2 separate regions of the Homo sapiens genome follow, and region 1 is linked to region 2. The links come from fine-mapping of genetic effects on gene expression. Tissue or cell type: anterior cingulate cortex. Region 2 holds a variant in brackets; the other region holds the start of a gene. All regions are shown on one strand. Distances are from middle to middle.

What was found. PIP is the estimated chance that this variant, and not a neighbour inherited with it, causes the effect.
Region 1: ADGRD1 starts here. The variant in region 2 is fine-mapped to the expression of ADGRD1 in anterior cingulate cortex (GTEx, PIP 0.93).

What each region holds. Positions count from the first base shown.
Region 1 is chr12:130,949,645-130,957,747 of GRCh38, forward strand. ADGRD1 (adhesion G protein-coupled receptor D1) reads left to right here and starts at 4,263. Exons shown (of 25, transcript NM_198827.5): 1 at 4,263-4,887; 2 at 4,980-5,016. The coding sequence starts at 4,822.
Region 2 is chr12:131,023,983-131,032,085 of GRCh38, forward strand. The region is part of intron 13 of ADGRD1 (adhesion G protein-coupled receptor D1); the gene reads left to right. Among named protein-coding and RNA genes, the nearest start is that of ADGRD1-AS1, 34 kb to the left of the region's middle. RefSeq lists an enhancer at 4,352-4,853. The variant C/T (reference allele first, on the strand shown) is at 5,015.

The sequences.
Region 1 (8,103 bases), 74 kb before region 2:
CACAACTCCCCCGCAACACCTGCAGCTTCTGACAGTCCCGTCTGAGCTCACGGGTCGGTGGAAGAAACGTCCTTCAAAAGGAAAGCCGACAGGAGCCGGAGGGGAGGCTGGGCTGGTAGAAACAACACACGCCCATGGTCCATGGCATGCTGCATCGGAGCTTTAGCCCATTCCATAGCTTCTTTCCAGAATGTCCCATCCCTTAACCACTCAGAGAAAGAATTCTTGAACTCCTTCGTGTGACTTTCACAGTGAATTCGCCCCCAGGCTTCTAACACCGTTCATTTCCATGTACGTTGTGTGCTGCACACCCCTCCTAGCACACTGCTTACGAACTGCTGCTCCGCCTTGCTTATCTACACAGGAGTAAACGTGATGGACACACAACTCTTGCTGCCTCTCACAAATATGCCGGCGTATGGGAGGGTCTGAGCTGGAGGGAGGCGCACCTTGGATTGGTGTGAATCAGGCATCAGGAACTCCTGTGCTCACAGCTTGTCCAGCTCTCCCTCAGCATTTGGGCCACTCCACAGAATTCTTTGTTCAGGCCCGATCTGTCCTCCTGGGACATCTGAGCTGCTCAGCACCAGGAAACATGCTCTGTTGTGCGCAGGGCATCAGCTTTGCAAATAATCCAGTTACGTTCCCATTGGTAGCTGGCGTCACACTTTATGTCCTTGTAAAATTTTGAGTGGAGCCTAATCACAATGTAAGGTCTCATTTTTAATGTTTAATTAGCATCCTCCCAGTAAAGTCTGAAATATTTTACCAAAGCGTAACAATGTTTTTCATTCTTTAAGTAAAGTACACATGCATGTGGCCCAAAACTATGACTTGAATGTTGAATGTGAGGCTGCCTGCCGGGCACTCCCCACCCAAGCATAGAAAAAAGAAAATCGGGCCGGGCGCGGTGGCTCACACCTGTAATCCCAGCACTTTGGGAGGCTGAGGTGGGCGGATCACGAGGTCAGGAGTTCGAGACCAGCCTGGCCAACATGGTGAAACTCCGCCTCTACTAAAAATACAAAAAAATTAGCCGGGTGTGGTGGCGGGTGCCTGTAATCCTGGCTACTCAGGAGGCTGAGGCAGGAGAATTGCTTGAACCTGGGAGCTCAGTGAGGTTGTGGTGGGCTGAGATCGTGCCACTGCCCTCTAGCCTGGGCAACAGAATGAGACTCCATCTCAAAATAAATAAATAAATACAATAAAATCTTGGGTTCCTTGAAGGGGAATTCCAGCCACCTAGCTAGCCCTGAGAAATACATGAGCAACTTGGGAAGCAAGAAGTTAATAGTGGCGAGAAACAATAGTCAAGAGAGTTAGAGTCAGGAATTCATTGCTTCCCTGTAGAAACTAAAGACAACATCGTAACAAACGACCCGGAGTTGTTTTTCAGAACCTGGACCCCCACCAAATGGATCTGTTGACTTACAGACCTCTGATATGGGGGAGCGGAGAGCTGAACTCCACCACCGTTCTTTGTTCTTTGTTTTTTGAGACAGAGTCTCACTCTGTTGCCCAGGCTGGAGTGCAGTGGCTCAATCTCAGCTCACTGCAACCTCCGCCTCCTGGGTTCAAGCGATTCTCTTGCCTCAGCCTCCCAAGTATCCTCCTGAGTACAGGTATGCACCACCACACCCGGCTAATTTTTGTATTTTTAGTAGAGACGGGGTTTCGCCATGTTGGCCAGGCTGGTCTCGAACCCCTGACCTCAGGTGATCCACCTGCCTCAGCCTCCCAAAGTGTTGGGATCCACCCCTCCGGGCCCACCACTGTTCTTTGTTCTAAATTTCTTCCTGAGGGGCCTGGAGGAGGTCATGCCCACAGGCCAGAGCTAACATTCTTTTTTGCTGATCTCAAATTTTTTGACAAAGCCTTGCCTTCTTAACCAATCACAAATCAGAAAACCTCTGAATCTACTACCTATATGACCTGTGGGCCCCCAGTTCAAGATGTCCTAGCTTTTTAGGTCAAACCAATGTGCAGCCTCCAGGTATTATTCATGTGGGACTTAGCCTGTAACCTCTGCCTCTCCACCTTGAAAAACCCTCCCCCATCAGCCATCGGGGAGTTCAGGTCTGAAGTGTGAGCTGCCAGGTTCTGCTCGCCTGGTGCCCTGCTCTAAATGCCTCACTTCCTCTCACTGCAATCCCGACGTCCATGTTTGGCTTTGCTGCGGGAGGGCAGAGCCAGGCTGGGTTTGGTGACAAACGCTGAGTGCTCACCAAGTACCAAGCCCTGTTCTCGGGGCTGGGGTGCAGAGCGAACAGGCAGAAAGAAGGTCTCTGCTCTCATGGGGCCTACGCCTCGGTGGGGAGAGACTGACAATAAATGAAATAAACGTCTAAGATATGAAGTACATTGGATCGTGGTTAGTGGGATCGAGAAAATACAGCAGGGGAGGGCTTTAGGGGGAGGGAGACCTGCTGTCAAGGTGATGTTTGGGTGCCGAACACCCCGACGTTTGGGTGATGGAATGAGATGCTCAGAGACATCAGAGTTGCTTGGTTCCAGGCCCATGGACCACTCAAGGCCCTGTCTCAAATCTCCAGGCTTCAGGACACGCTGCTTTACATGGAGGCGGGCTCTTCATCTGGGCCTCTGAACAAGGCCTGAGACAGGACGCAGGCAAATAGCATGAGGCACGAGACTGTAGTCCGGGATGGAGAGTCAGAGTGAGTCTGAGGATGAGTGCAGATGCCTGCAGGGCAAGCTCTGCTGAATTGCTTTGCTATCTAGTTTTTATTACAGTCATTGAATCGGGGTGTCTCCCATTATCTGATGACAATTTTATGATGAAAAGAAACCATGCTGGCTTTGTTCGGTCATGGAGATGGGAAAGGTCCGCATATTCAGCAATCTGTTGAATTCTTCCAGGTTAAAACTGGAGCTGAGAAAAACCTGCAGCTGCCTGTCCCTCCCTTCACCTCTTCCAGCGAGAGGCAGTGGGGGACTGGAGAGCTGATGAAATGGCAGAGATAAAGGTTGTAAATTAGTTTTCCCTGAAGCCGACCAGCCTGAGCAACAGGATAAAGGTCGTTATTACAGACAGCCCCCGGCCTTTGGAGTTCACAGTTTCTCCATTGCTAGGAGATGGAACTCTCTGGAACCCTTCTCCAGCTCCACAGAGAGGCTCAGGCTATCAGAGGATCTGAGCGGTTGTAGGCTGCAGGCACAAGTTAAAAATAATCACCTAACGTTTTGACAGCACTTTCTTTTTTTCTGTCCCACAGAGATTGGAAGTCATTTTCTTATCCTCTTTAGGAAGTATGTTGGATTCAGGATTCTTAATTCCCATTTAAAGTCAGGACAATTGAGATAACTGTATCAGCTAACATTTACTGGGTGTTATGTTATACTTGCTAATAATAATCATAGCTAACATTTACTGAGTGATAATTTTTCTTAATAGAAAATAGCAGCATTTACTGAGTGCCACATATTTTCCAAGTACTGCCTGAAGAGCCTTGGATCTGTCCTCTAATTTATTGTTACAGCCCTGAGGAGGAGGAACTATTAACCCCCATTTTGTGGATGAGGAATTCGAAAACTAAGAGAGATCAAGTAATTTGCCTAGGAGCACAGCTGGTGAATGTTGGAGAAAGTATGAAGCGGTAAATATTACTTAAATCACATAGCAAATATAGCTGTGACTGCAATTCTAGGGTGTGTGTCTCTGTGTGTCCACGTGTATTTGGAGTAGATCGGATAAACTTTGGTCTTGGGTAAACTGAGGCATGTCTGGCGAAGGGGCTGACTCTTTTCTATCCCATTGAGAACATCCTCCTGGTGCTGGGGTGGGGGTATATGTGGGATGGTGTAATTGCGCAGCGTACCTTGTAATTAATTCCGTAGCTTTCACTGACGTCCGAAAGGATTAGAGAGAAAAATGTGGTCAGCGCTTAATATGGAGGGCACAGTGGGTGTGCTGCTTTCTCTTTTCCATCCCTCTGTCAACTTCATTCTCTTTTGGGGGCAAACAAGACTCAGATCTAAACAGAGTTTATGGTTTGTTTTGCATTTTGTATTTATTAATATTTATGCCGACTTTGAAGGTGCTGACCAGAAGGCATCAGTAACACACACACGCACACGCACACACACCACACACCATGTCTGTTTGGTTTGATTCTGAGCCTGAGATCCTGGAAATATTTCAGCTGTTGTTAAGAGGCTGGAGTTAGGACCCAGGAAGGACACAGCAGTGGGGATATAAATAGAAAAGGAGAACAGAACAAAGTTTGAGGAGAGAGACTTACATCACTCACTCCCCCTCCACCCAGAGAGCAGGACGGAGGTGTGAACTTGAGCCAGACCAGAAGGAGCTCGAGAGCGGCCGCAGGACAAGCCCGAGGAGCAGGCGGGCGCTCCAGGGGAAAACCACGCACAAAACCTTCTTCAGAGAAAAGGGAAGCTCCAAACCTGACTGAGACAAACGGAGGCTCTTGAAATAAAAAGAAAATACCGCAGGACAAACAGCCTCCCGTCCCCGGGCGCAGGTCGCGGTCACAGTGGTGACCTGGGATTGCTTTCCCAGGACTGCGAGTCGGGTTTGGGTTTCTCCTCCCTGCATTCCACAGCTGCTCTGGTCATCGCAACGTGTTTATTGATCACTGAAGAATCTCAAGTTTTGAGACGAGGAAGAAACACCCATTAGGTCTCCAAGACAGCTGTGTTTCACAAACTTTAAGGAGACAGAAATTTTCTCCCCTGGAACCTGTGAAAATGTCCCTTTTCCAAGGAAGTGAAGGTTAAGAGGTCCCGTTCTCACAGACCCTCAGGAATTTCACTTGGCTCCGAGCTTTGACCTCCGAGAGAGCCATGGAAAAGCTGCTGCGGCTGTGCTGCTGGTACTCCTGGCTGCTGCTATTTTATTACAACTTTCAGGTAATGTCCCCAAGTGGCCAGGATGGCGACAGGCTTGGTTTCTCCGGAGGCTTTCCCTGAGTGTGTCTCACACTGTGGTCTTTTGTGCGCAGGTGCGTGGCGTCTACTCCAGATCGCAGGACCATCCAGGTAAGAGTGTTTCCTTCTCACTCTGAGCACCGCTCTCCCCCTGCCTAGTGCAGGTATCTCAGGAACAGCCCACTTGTTCATCTCTGAGGCATCAGCGAATGGCCCTTGTTGGGCTCCTGGTCCCCGACCTCACTGCCTCACCACACACTGTGACCCTGGGCAGCTCTGCTACCCCTCACCGGCTGAGCGGTGGATGGAGAAGTGGTTCTGGGCCCCTTGAGCTGGGTCATATGAAACATTGTGATTAAGGAAATATGATCTTCATTTGAATGCCTTCTGCCTCTTTCTTTCTCTCTTTCTCTCTTTCTTCCTTTCTTCCTTTTTTTCTTTTTGAGATGGAGTCTTGCTCTGTTGCCCAGGCTGGAGTGCAGTGGCCGCAACCTCTGCCTCCCGGGTTCAAGCAATTCTCCTGCCTCAGCCACCTGAGTAGCTGGGATCACAGGTGTGCACCACTACACCCAGCTTTTTTTTTTTTTGTATTTTTAGTAGAGACAGGGTTTCACTATGTTGGCCAGGCTGGTCTCGAACTCCTGATTTCAGGTGATCCGCCCGCCTTGGCCTCCCAGAGTGCTGGGATTACAGATGTGAGCCACCACACCCATCTCATGTCTTCAGGGCAGATTCACTGGTGGGGAGTTGGAGCTCTGGCCCATAGCAGGGTCTCGGGACCTCCAGCCTCAGAGTGCTGACCAGCTTAGCCTGGAGCAGCCGATGAGTGGGACTCGGGATAGAGGGCCACCCTTGCTCCAGCCCCAGAGCCACATTCCATTGGCCATTGTGACACCCAACCAGGAAGCATCAGGACGGGGCTTCTCTCGGGAAGACAGGGAGGCACACACCCTTCGCTGTTAAGAGTGTGGGCACACGTTCTGGTCAGCCAGGGGCAGGGATGGGAAGACGAGGCTTTCTGGGAGCAGCAGGCAGTCACTGGGCTGTTGCTCCCTGCTGGAAGTTGCAGGAGGTGGGGAGGAGACCCTGCTAGTGCCTGAACCCCTGCTGGGAAGCCTGTTGTGAGCACAGCCTCTGCCCCCGCCCCACCAGAGCTTGGCTGGGCACCCCCCCGAGCGCTATTGTATGGCCCTGCCTGTCTCTGATGGGAAATCAGCCTTTTTAAAAAAATTATTTTTGTTTTTATTTTTTGAGACAAAGTCTCACTCTGTCACCCAGGCTGGAGTTGAGTGGTGAGATCTCAGTCTCGGCTCTCTGCTACCTCTGCCTCCCGGGTTCAAGCGATTCTTGTGCCTCAGCCTTCCAAGCAGCTGGGATTACAGGCCCATGCCACCACGCCTGGCTAATTTTTGTATTTTTAGTAGACACAAGGTTTTGCCATGTTGGCCAGGCTGGTCTCGATCTCCTGACCTCGGGTGATCCAACCACCTCGGCCTCCCAAAGTGTTGGGATTACAGATGTGAGCCACTGGGCCTGGCTGGGAACCAGCCTTTAATGATCAACCACAAATGGACTCAGGCCAGCACTGTGGGCAGATCCCAGGGCGATACCCAGGCCTCCAGGGAGAGCCCCTTTCCTGGATGGAGCACCAGGAGCCTGCTGGGGTCTAGGGCCAGGGGCTGTGCCCTCAGCCTCTGTCTCCTTTCCGGCTGCCCGGCAGCCCCATGCCAGGATGTTCCAGGCATCGTCGCCTCGCCACCACCTCCATTCACCAACTCGGGGGTGGGGACGCTGCCACTTCTGTTTCGTCCACATGCATAGGGAGCTCCTTTTAAAAAGGTGTGGAAGCTGTGAGTTTCCACACATTCCCCTCTCCTCAGCCAAATCGCTGAATGAAACAAGGGCTCCTGTGGCTTGGGAACGAATAAACATGCCCAGCGCTGCGTTAAAGAGAGGACGTGTCCACCTTGGACACCTTGCTTCTCGTGAATGCAGGCCTCATGGCTTGGGCTGGGCTCCAGTAGGGGAGAGGACTGAGAGGAGGAGAGGGGTAGCCCCTCGAACTGCAGGGCGGTCAGGCAGAGCTGTGCACCCGGCTCCTGCAGCAGGCAGGTGGCCCCCGAGGCCCCAGCATGGCCCTCACTGCTGCTCAGTGTTGGAGAAAAGCTGTGCGGGTTCTCCCCGGACTTCTGCTTATGATACAGAGCCCACACGCATTCTCACACATGCACATGTGTCCACATGCCCCCCCATGCTACATGTCTACATGTGTCAACATATGCCCACATGCACCAACACAAATCACACACATCCACACATGGTGACACATATGCATACACACACACACCAGATGTCTACATGTGTCAACATATGGCCACATGTGCCAACACACATCACATGTCCACACACCACTCACATCCATACACATCAGACATGTTGACACACATGCATACACATGCAAAAGCATCCACACATATGCACACACCTGCATGCATCAACATGTGTCCACATGCATCCACACATGTGTCCACACAATTCACATGTGTAGACACACATGCACATATATACACATCCATGCACACACCCACACCCACATGTGCCAACACATGTCTACGTGCATCAACATACATGTATTTACACATGTTCACACATGTCCACACATATCCACGTGTCTACACACATGACCACACAGTCACAGACTACACACATCCACATGCATCCACACACATCCATACATTTCTACACACATGCATACACGTACACACATTCACAAAAGTCCACGTGTCTACACACATCTGCACATGCTCGCACATCTCTACACACATGCACATACATACACACATGCTCACACACGTACACCCCACACACGTCCACACACACTCATATGCATGCACGTGTCCACACACATCTTCACATACTCACATGTGTGCACACACATGCACACACACCCTCACACATTCACACACATCCCACATCCACACACATGTACACCTATTTACACAGCTCACATATCCACACACGTACACATATGTACACACACATGCACATGTGCACTTGCATTTTTGTATCTAAACTTGAAGGAGCAGTTTGAACTCAGTCTTTGTTCCATATAGAAGCTTTGTTCTTCCAAGTCTGGATTTAGGGTAGAAATCAACATTTCCTGATCAAGGCACTGTCTTAGAGAAACGACGGCCATGC
Region 2 (8,103 bases):
CTGGTGTGTGGATTTAAGTCATTTCTGAAGATTCAACCTGATGAGCTGTCGACCACAGATGAAGACAGAACGGATCTGAGAGATGAATGATGTATCTGGGGTTAGCATCTGGATGATCCGAGTAATGGTTTTGGGAGAGGCAAAGCCTAGAATTAGCCACCCCTGAGGGACAGTGCTTTCCTGCCCCCGGCAGAGCGGCCTGGGGGGAGTTGTGCAGGAAGCAGGTGCAGGCAGCCCCGCTGGCCGGGTCACTGGGGTTCTCTGTGACGTCAGGGTCAGAGAGGCCCACATGGAGGGCTGGAGCCTGGTGCTGGTGCCTGATGGCTAGCTCCTCAGTGTGCTGGCTTTCCTGGCAGAGGGGAGGTCGAGCGTGGCTTCTAGTGGTCCCTAAAGCCACCAGGGTTTCCAGTGTGGCTGGTGCTGCAGCAGACCCAACCGAGCATCCTGTGTGTTTTGGAAACATTTCAGTCATGTTCCGGTCAGTGATAGATTGCGTATACCACAGTGGTCCCATCAGACTGTAAGACCAGATTTTCCCTGTACCTCATCTATGTTTTGATGTATTTCAATGCACAGATCCTTCCCATTGTGTTACAGCCGCTGGCAGCATTCAGTACAGTAGTGGGCACAGTTTGTAGCCTAGGAGCAATAGGCTACTCCATACAGCCAGGTGTGTGGTGGACTGCGTCGTCTAGCTTTGTGTAAGTCCCCTCTGTGATGTTCACAGCACGATGAAATCGCCTAATGATGCATTTTCACAATGTGTCCTTGTCATTAAGTGATGCAAGACTGTACTCCTTTTCCTTGAGGCACCATTCAGGCCTCCCAGACACGAGAAGGGAGCAATGGGAAGGGAGCAATGCAGCAGGCGTGTCTGTGTGAGAAGCTCGGGCAGGGCTCTCCGGGCCATTTTCTCACTGGTCCTGAGGCCTGCTGGCTGTGGCCCGAGGGCAGGGACGGCATGGTGGCCTGGGGGAACCGTCTCTGCAGGCACTTCTCACCTCCCGGCTCCAGTGAATTACAGGCCCTGTGGGGCTTGATGCCGTGGATGGAAGTTTTGTAGAAGGCCATGTTTGTGTCTTCTGTGAAGTATGAAAGGTGCCAGTTTGAAAACCAGAGAAAAAGAAAGCGTGGATTAAAATGCAGTCCCCGTTTTAATGGTTGGTTACTGCAGTTATTTTTAAAAAAAGAAAGTGTTTGAATAAGGAATCCTGTCTTGAAGAGAGGTGGAGAGGAATTTTTATCATACCGAAAGAGGATGGTAATTAAGGCTTGTCTTAGCCAAGCGTTCTCTAGGGTTTTGGGGTTTTTCTTTTGAAGGTTGCTTTTATATTTCTGAGGATGTTGCGGGGGCCTGCTCTTCTAAGTTAAAGTGATTTGTCTGATGGGAAGATTTCCCCTGGCGGCACTCTGTCACGGGCCGTGAGGAGGAGGTGAACTCAGAAGAGAGTCACACATTTGTCCCCCACATCGTTGTCAGGGAACCGTGACATGGAGGCTGCAGGAATTTTCTCCCAACATGGGCTGAGGTCTTGAGGCCCGAGGCTGAGATGCCTTCTTTTCTTTTTTTTTTTTTTTGATACAGAGTCTTGCTCTGTCATCCGGGCTGGAGTGCAATGGCACGATCTCGGCTCACTGCAACTTCTACCTCCTGGGTTCAAGCAATTCTCCTGCCTCAGCCTCCTGAGTAGCTGGGATTACGGGCATGCTCCCTGCTAATTTTTGTAATTTTAGTAGTGACAGGGTTTCACCGTGTTGTTCAGGCTGGTCTCGAACTCCTGGCCTCAAGTGATCCATCCACCTCCGTCTCCCAAAGTGCTGGGATTACAGGCGTGGGCCACTGTGCCTGGCCTGAGATACCTTCTTTTGCTGGCACAGAATGGGGTGCAAGCTCCCCAGGGTGTGAGGGACAGAGTTGCAGGCCCATCCTGGAGGCTCTGAGGGGGCACCTGGTAAAGCCTGGGGGTGAGGCTGGGCACTCCACATGCCCCAGGGCTGCACCACGGAAGCCCACGGAGGTCCTGGGACACGTGACTGTGTCACTGTGCCCGGTTCATGTCAATTGCGCCAGTGCCATCAGTGTGTCTGGGCCCTCAGGCTGCAGAGGGCAAGTGGGAATGGTCAGTGAGGTGTCATCTGTGCTTCTCCCCTGCTGGGGAGCCTGCACTCTACAGACAAACGGGGCAGCCGCGGGTGTGGCTGGGCCATGGACTGTGTCTCAGTGGACTGTGTCTCAGGGCACAGACCCTGCTTCCAGCCTTTCCCGGTGCCCTCCAGAGGGCTGGGTGGCCTCATTACTCCTGCCCTTCTGAGCTGGATGGAATCCCTTATTCTCCCAAAGGGCTCATTTTAATGTCTGCGGGGGGGCGGGAGTCCTTTGCCACTGACGTCAGCCCTTTGCCACTGACGTCAGCAATCGTCTGTCCGATCTCTCAGGGCATTGGAAGGGAGTGAGCTCCAGAGCACTTCCTGACCGCGTGGAGCCGAGCTCCGGAGCGCTTTCTGACCGTGTGGAGCTCCAGCGTCCATGTCACCCCGGAACAGAGGAGGTTCCCAGGCATAGAGTGGAATCCAGACTTTGGCCTTTTGAAGTTGGCTTGTGTTTCTGGGGCTTAATCTTCCAAGGGAACTGGTTCTGCTGTGTTGAGATGCATTGGTGTTGGGGCACTGTGGCTGTGGGGCTGGCCTGGGCATTGCAGGGAGGGTGTGGAGCAGCATCCCTGGCCTCTACCCACTTGATGCCAGCAGCCCCTCCCCAGGTTTGACAACTAGATACGTCTCTAGGCATCGCCAATATACCCGGGAGACTCCCAGGTGAGAGTCTCCCAGGGGATATTGCAGTGTTCACGGCTGGATGCTACTCGTCACTATTCCATATTCCATTATATGAATAGGCCACCGCTGACTCGTCCTTGTAACCATAATTTGGCTGTTTCCAGTTGCGGACTATTACACACAGTCACTTTCCTGTGCTTCTCAGATTCAGAACCATATTTGAGGGAGATGAAAGCAGGCGGGTGGCTTCTCTTGGAGGCAGGTACTTTCTCGTAGGGATTGTGGCACACAGCTGTTATTTCTCTAGGATTTGCTGTGAATGAGGGAAAAACGGTTGATTGTGAATGAAGCAAGGTTCATTTTCTTCCCATGGTCATTCCTTGGTGCACTGTAGATCCAGGATATTCCTACTCTGCAGGCTGTTTAAATAACACACACACACGCACACACATGCACACACACATAGCCAAACATCGTTTGAAATCCCATCCCTCAGAGATGACCAGTGTCAACATTGTGGTGACTTCTTTCGGGGCTTCTCTAGGTGTGTGTGTGTGTGCACACAATTTTATATAAATGGGGTTCTGCTATCCGTGCCGTTTCGCAGCTTCAGTTTTTAAATTTACCATGTCTATATTTCCGTGCCAGTAGCTCAGACTGTATCATCATTCTCACGGCTGCTTAATAGTCTACGTTTGTCATCCTGCTGGTGTGCGTCTGGCTTCGGGTTTGCATTCTCACAATGCTGTAATGAATCTTCTGTGTTCTTGCTGGGTTATCTCTGTAGGATGAATTCTCAGAGGTAGAATTGCTCTGTTAAATGTCTACACATTTTTTTCTCATTTTAAAATTTATTTTGGATGTTTAATCCAGATCTGTGTTTATTTACTGAGGGGAGCAGGTAGAATTGTAGAGTCACAGAGAAACAAATTAGAGCTAGGGGTTCAGGGTTACTCAGACCAAACTTCTCATCACCCTGCATCCCCCTGCCAGCCATGTTTTAAAAGCAAACGTGTTATTGGAGTATAACATGCCTGCAGAAAAGCACGTATATGTGTGTATGGTATGACAGTTTTTACAAAGCGAACATACCCAAGAAATCACCCCTCAGGTCAAGAAGCAGCACACGGCCAGCACCATGGAATGCCTTTTCCAGACGCCAGCAGAACAGAGCTGCCGGATGTTCTAGTGAGCGCGTTTCTGCTGGTGAACCTGACTGTGCCCTTCTTTGTGGGATCTGCCCAGGATGGCGTCGCTGGGTCGAGGGGCATGTTCAGCATGAACAGCTGGTGCCCGGTGCCTTCTCCAGAGCGGGCACTGGTTCACTCTCCCCTTGGCAGAGCGTGAGAAGCCCAGTGTCCAGCATTGGGTGTGGCCCGTCTTTTCCAGGTCCGCCATTCTGGTGGCTAATGTTGTCTCATTCTGTTTTTTATTTGCTTTTCTTGAATGATGTTGGTGACCTTTTTATGTTTATTGGATATCAATATCCTTTTAAAAAAATCTACTCAAGACTTCTGCTCATTTTTCTGTTGTGCTGTTTGCTTTTCTTTCTTACTGATTTTTTAAGGAGTTTTTGTGTATTTTGAGTATGAGTCATTTGTTTGATATACGTATTGCAAATATCTCTTACACGGGGTCTTCCCTTTTGACTTCGATGGTGTCTGCTGGTGGACAGCAGTTTTCAACGTCAGTGCAGTCCGGTTTATCAAGCTCTTCTGTATTCAGTGCTTTTATGTCTTGGTGGAGGAATCCTGCCTAACCCGAGGCCATGAAAGTAGTTTCCTGTGTTACCTGGAACATTTGTTGTTTTCACTTTCGTGTTTGGGCCTGTGGTCCTTCTCTGCTTGTTTCTGTGTCTGCAGTGCAGTAGGGGTTGAGACTGACCACTGTCCCCAGACGGATATGTAATTTACCCAGCTCCACGTGTGGGAAGACCAACCTCTCCCCTAGTGCTGTGGTGCCGCCTTTGCCGTCAGTCACGGGAGGGGCGACGTGGCTGTTTCTGGACTCTGCTCTGTCCGTCATCCCATTTGCATGCCGGTACGATTGCAACTGCCACGTCCTATGCCAAGGCCTGAGACCGGCTCGTGTAAACCCTCCAGCTTGTTATTCCAGGCGGCCTCGGCTATTTTTGGTGAGACGCATTTAAAAATTTGATGCGCGTCGTGAAACTGCCCTTCAGAAAGGTCGTAACCATTTATCCAGCCATGGGTGGGGCTCGGCAGTGCCGCCTCTCCCA[C/T]GCCATTGCAGACTCTGATGCACAGGAAGTCACACCTGGTTGTCATTCATAGCTGCGTAGCTTTGGTTATTGGTGAGGCTTCCTAAGTGAACTGGCCATCTGCATTTTTCTTTATGTTGTAACCACCTTCTTTCCTGATTTCTCCAGTGGAGTGTTTGTTTTGTTAGTGACTTCTGAGAGCTCTCGATGTAGTTCCAACGTTAACTCATTGCCTGCTGCTGTAATCTACCAGGCTTATTTTTATATTGACTATTATAGTCAGTGCGGATGAACACTTGAACCTGCAGTGCGAATCCGTTCCCCTGACCCCAGCCTCTGTGCCTCCCCCTCCTCTGCTCCTGCCTCCCTCTGTCAAGATCCTTGGGATCACACTGGATACATGTGGCTAATCCAGGATCACCTCCCACCTCCAGACGTTTAATTTACCCACATCAGAAAGGTCCCTTTTGCCATGTAAAGTGACATTCCCAGGCTCTGGGGTTAGGTTGTGGGACTCTCGTACGGTGACATTCCCAGGCTCTGGGATTAGGTTGTGGACCCCTCGTTCGGTGACATTCCCAGGCTCTGGGGTTAGGTTGTGGACCCCTCATGTGGTGACATTCCCAGGCTCTGGGGTTAGGTTGTGGACCCGTCGTAGGTGACATTCCCAGGCTCTGGGGTTAGGTTATGGACCCCTCGTATGGTGACATTCCCAGGCTCTGGGATTAGGTTGTGGACCCCTCGTTCGGTGACATTCCCAGGCTCTGGGGTTAGGTTGTGGACCCCTTGTTCGGTGACATTCCCAGGCTCTGGGGTTAGGTTGTGGACCCCTCTTAACGGTGACATTCCCAGGCTCTGGGATTAGGTTGCGGACCCCTCGTTCGGTGACATTCCCAGGCTCTGGGATTAGGTTGTGGACCCCTCGTTCGGTGACATTCCCAGGCTCTGGGGTTAGGTTGTGGACCCCTCGTTCAGTGACATTCCCAGGCTCTGGGGTTAGGTTGTGGACCCCTCTTATGGTAACATTCCCAGGCTCTGGGGTTAGGATGTGGACCCCTCTTATGGTGACATTTCCAGGCTCTGGGGTTAGGTTGTGGACCCGTCGTAGGTGACATTCCCAGGCTCTGGGGTTAGGTTGTGGACCCTTCATACGGTGACATTCCCAGGCTCTGGGGTTAGGTTGTGGACCCGTCGTATGGTGACATTCCCAGGCTCTGGGGTTAGGTTGTGGACCCGTCGTAGGTGACATTCCCAGGCTCTGGGGTTAGGTTGTGGACCCGTCGTAGGTGACATTCCCAGGCTCTGGGGTTAGGTTGTGGACCCCTCTGGTGGAGGGTGGGGATTGTGTTTTGTCAGCTGCAGAGGGTAAATTAAGAATCTGTGGGGAGCCCTTCCAGACTGTGCCGCTGAAATTGTTGGGGCAGTGGCTCTATCTCCGAGAATGCAGCTAGATCTCAGAATGCATCCCCAACGTTGCAGCGTGCGCAGGCCCTTCCTCCTGAGGGCACCCACCTTGGTGAATGGGATTTTCTGTATCCAGTTGTCTCTGCTCCAGTTGATGTGGCAGACACAGGGTCAGACAGAAGCTTGCTGGACATCGTCCCTCCCCTGAGGCCAAGGCCGGACGAGGGGTCTCTTCAGCTGCACATCGGGGCAGGTGAGGGGTGTCAGCCACGTCCCGGGGAATAGTAGCCTGCCCACCTCAGCAGAATGGCGAACTCGCTTTCCCGTGGCCTTTGGCATCTGTAGCGTGGATGCCATGGAGTGTGGCGCGTGACACCTCAATGTGGCACACTGAGACTGTAAAGAACAGAAGACACCAGTACTTTAACCCGCGGCTGAGGGCTCATCGCTTTGAATACGCCGGGGTGTGCAGAGCACAGGTCAGCTATTGTGTAGGAGAGACACTGAGCCGCATCTGCAGCCTGTTGTTCTGGGGTCGCCTTGGTTACAGCCACCTCTGTCACAATGTGCAGTGTGTCGGAGTCTCCTTCCAGAGGAGCACTCGCCCACAGCCAGGGCCCCCACCGAGGGCCGCTCTTTTCACCAGGGTTTCTGAACAGGCCACATGGGAGCCCGGAACGCAGGAAGGGCAACACCTCATCCCAACTCACCACACTGGGCCCCGGGGAGCCAGGGGCTGGGCGGTCTCAACTCTGAGCTCCACTGCCGGAAGCTCTGCTGCCTTGGGGGGTCCTGTCGAAGCTGCTCCCTGCCTCCCACCCTCCCTTCCTGCGCCATGTCATTTGTTGGGGGCTCTGACAGCGGAGCCCACTCACGTCTGGGGCAGCCTTGGGTACTGCGTGCTGCCCTGGTGCGGCTCAAACACTGGACGGTGGCCTTCATCCCTTTAGGCCTGGCTTAGCCTCTTGCAGGTCTGAGCCCAGGTGCAGGAGAATTCGGGGAGACTGTGGGGCATGACTGGAATGGGGTGAGTTCTGACCTGTTGCTGGGATGACCATTTACACAGCTTGAGACATAAATGCAGTCCCTCACCCATGCGGTTCTGTCGACGAGTCACCCATTGCTCACAGCTTCTCAGATTTGCGTTTGTCGGTGGTTTTCCCAAGGTTCCAGGATTAGCAAACACGGCCCCCCCACCCTTCCTTCAGGCCTGGTCTTAAACCAGGTCACCCACCTGCCCCTCCCCTTGAGGCTGCAGGAGTTCTGGGGCCCCTCTCCACCATCCCATTGTACTGGACCCCCAGGGCCACCTCCATGGATCTCTGTGTCTTTGATTCTTGTGCCCCCAGGGTTGGGCCTGGGTGTCAACACCTTGTCTCCCCAAAACCTCAGGAAGTGACTTGGCTTCTCCCCAGGGGCCAGCTCTGCATACCAAACATCCGGGTCACTTCTGCCAACACTCGGAAACCCTGAGAGGTGTCATTGCCTCGTCCCCGCACATGCCAGGTGCCTACCTGCCTTCCCTGTGGGAAGCTGGGGAGCCATTTGTGTCTGTTTGGTGAACTGCTGCCCCGGAAGGGAGGCCTTCAGATGAACCAGCCTGACTTCTCTCCTATCGCAGCCTCCACCCTTGGCTCTGGGGTTCCTGCCGCTGTGCCCCACAGATAGAGGGGGTGACATTGCTTTCCAAAATGCAGCCCTTAGCC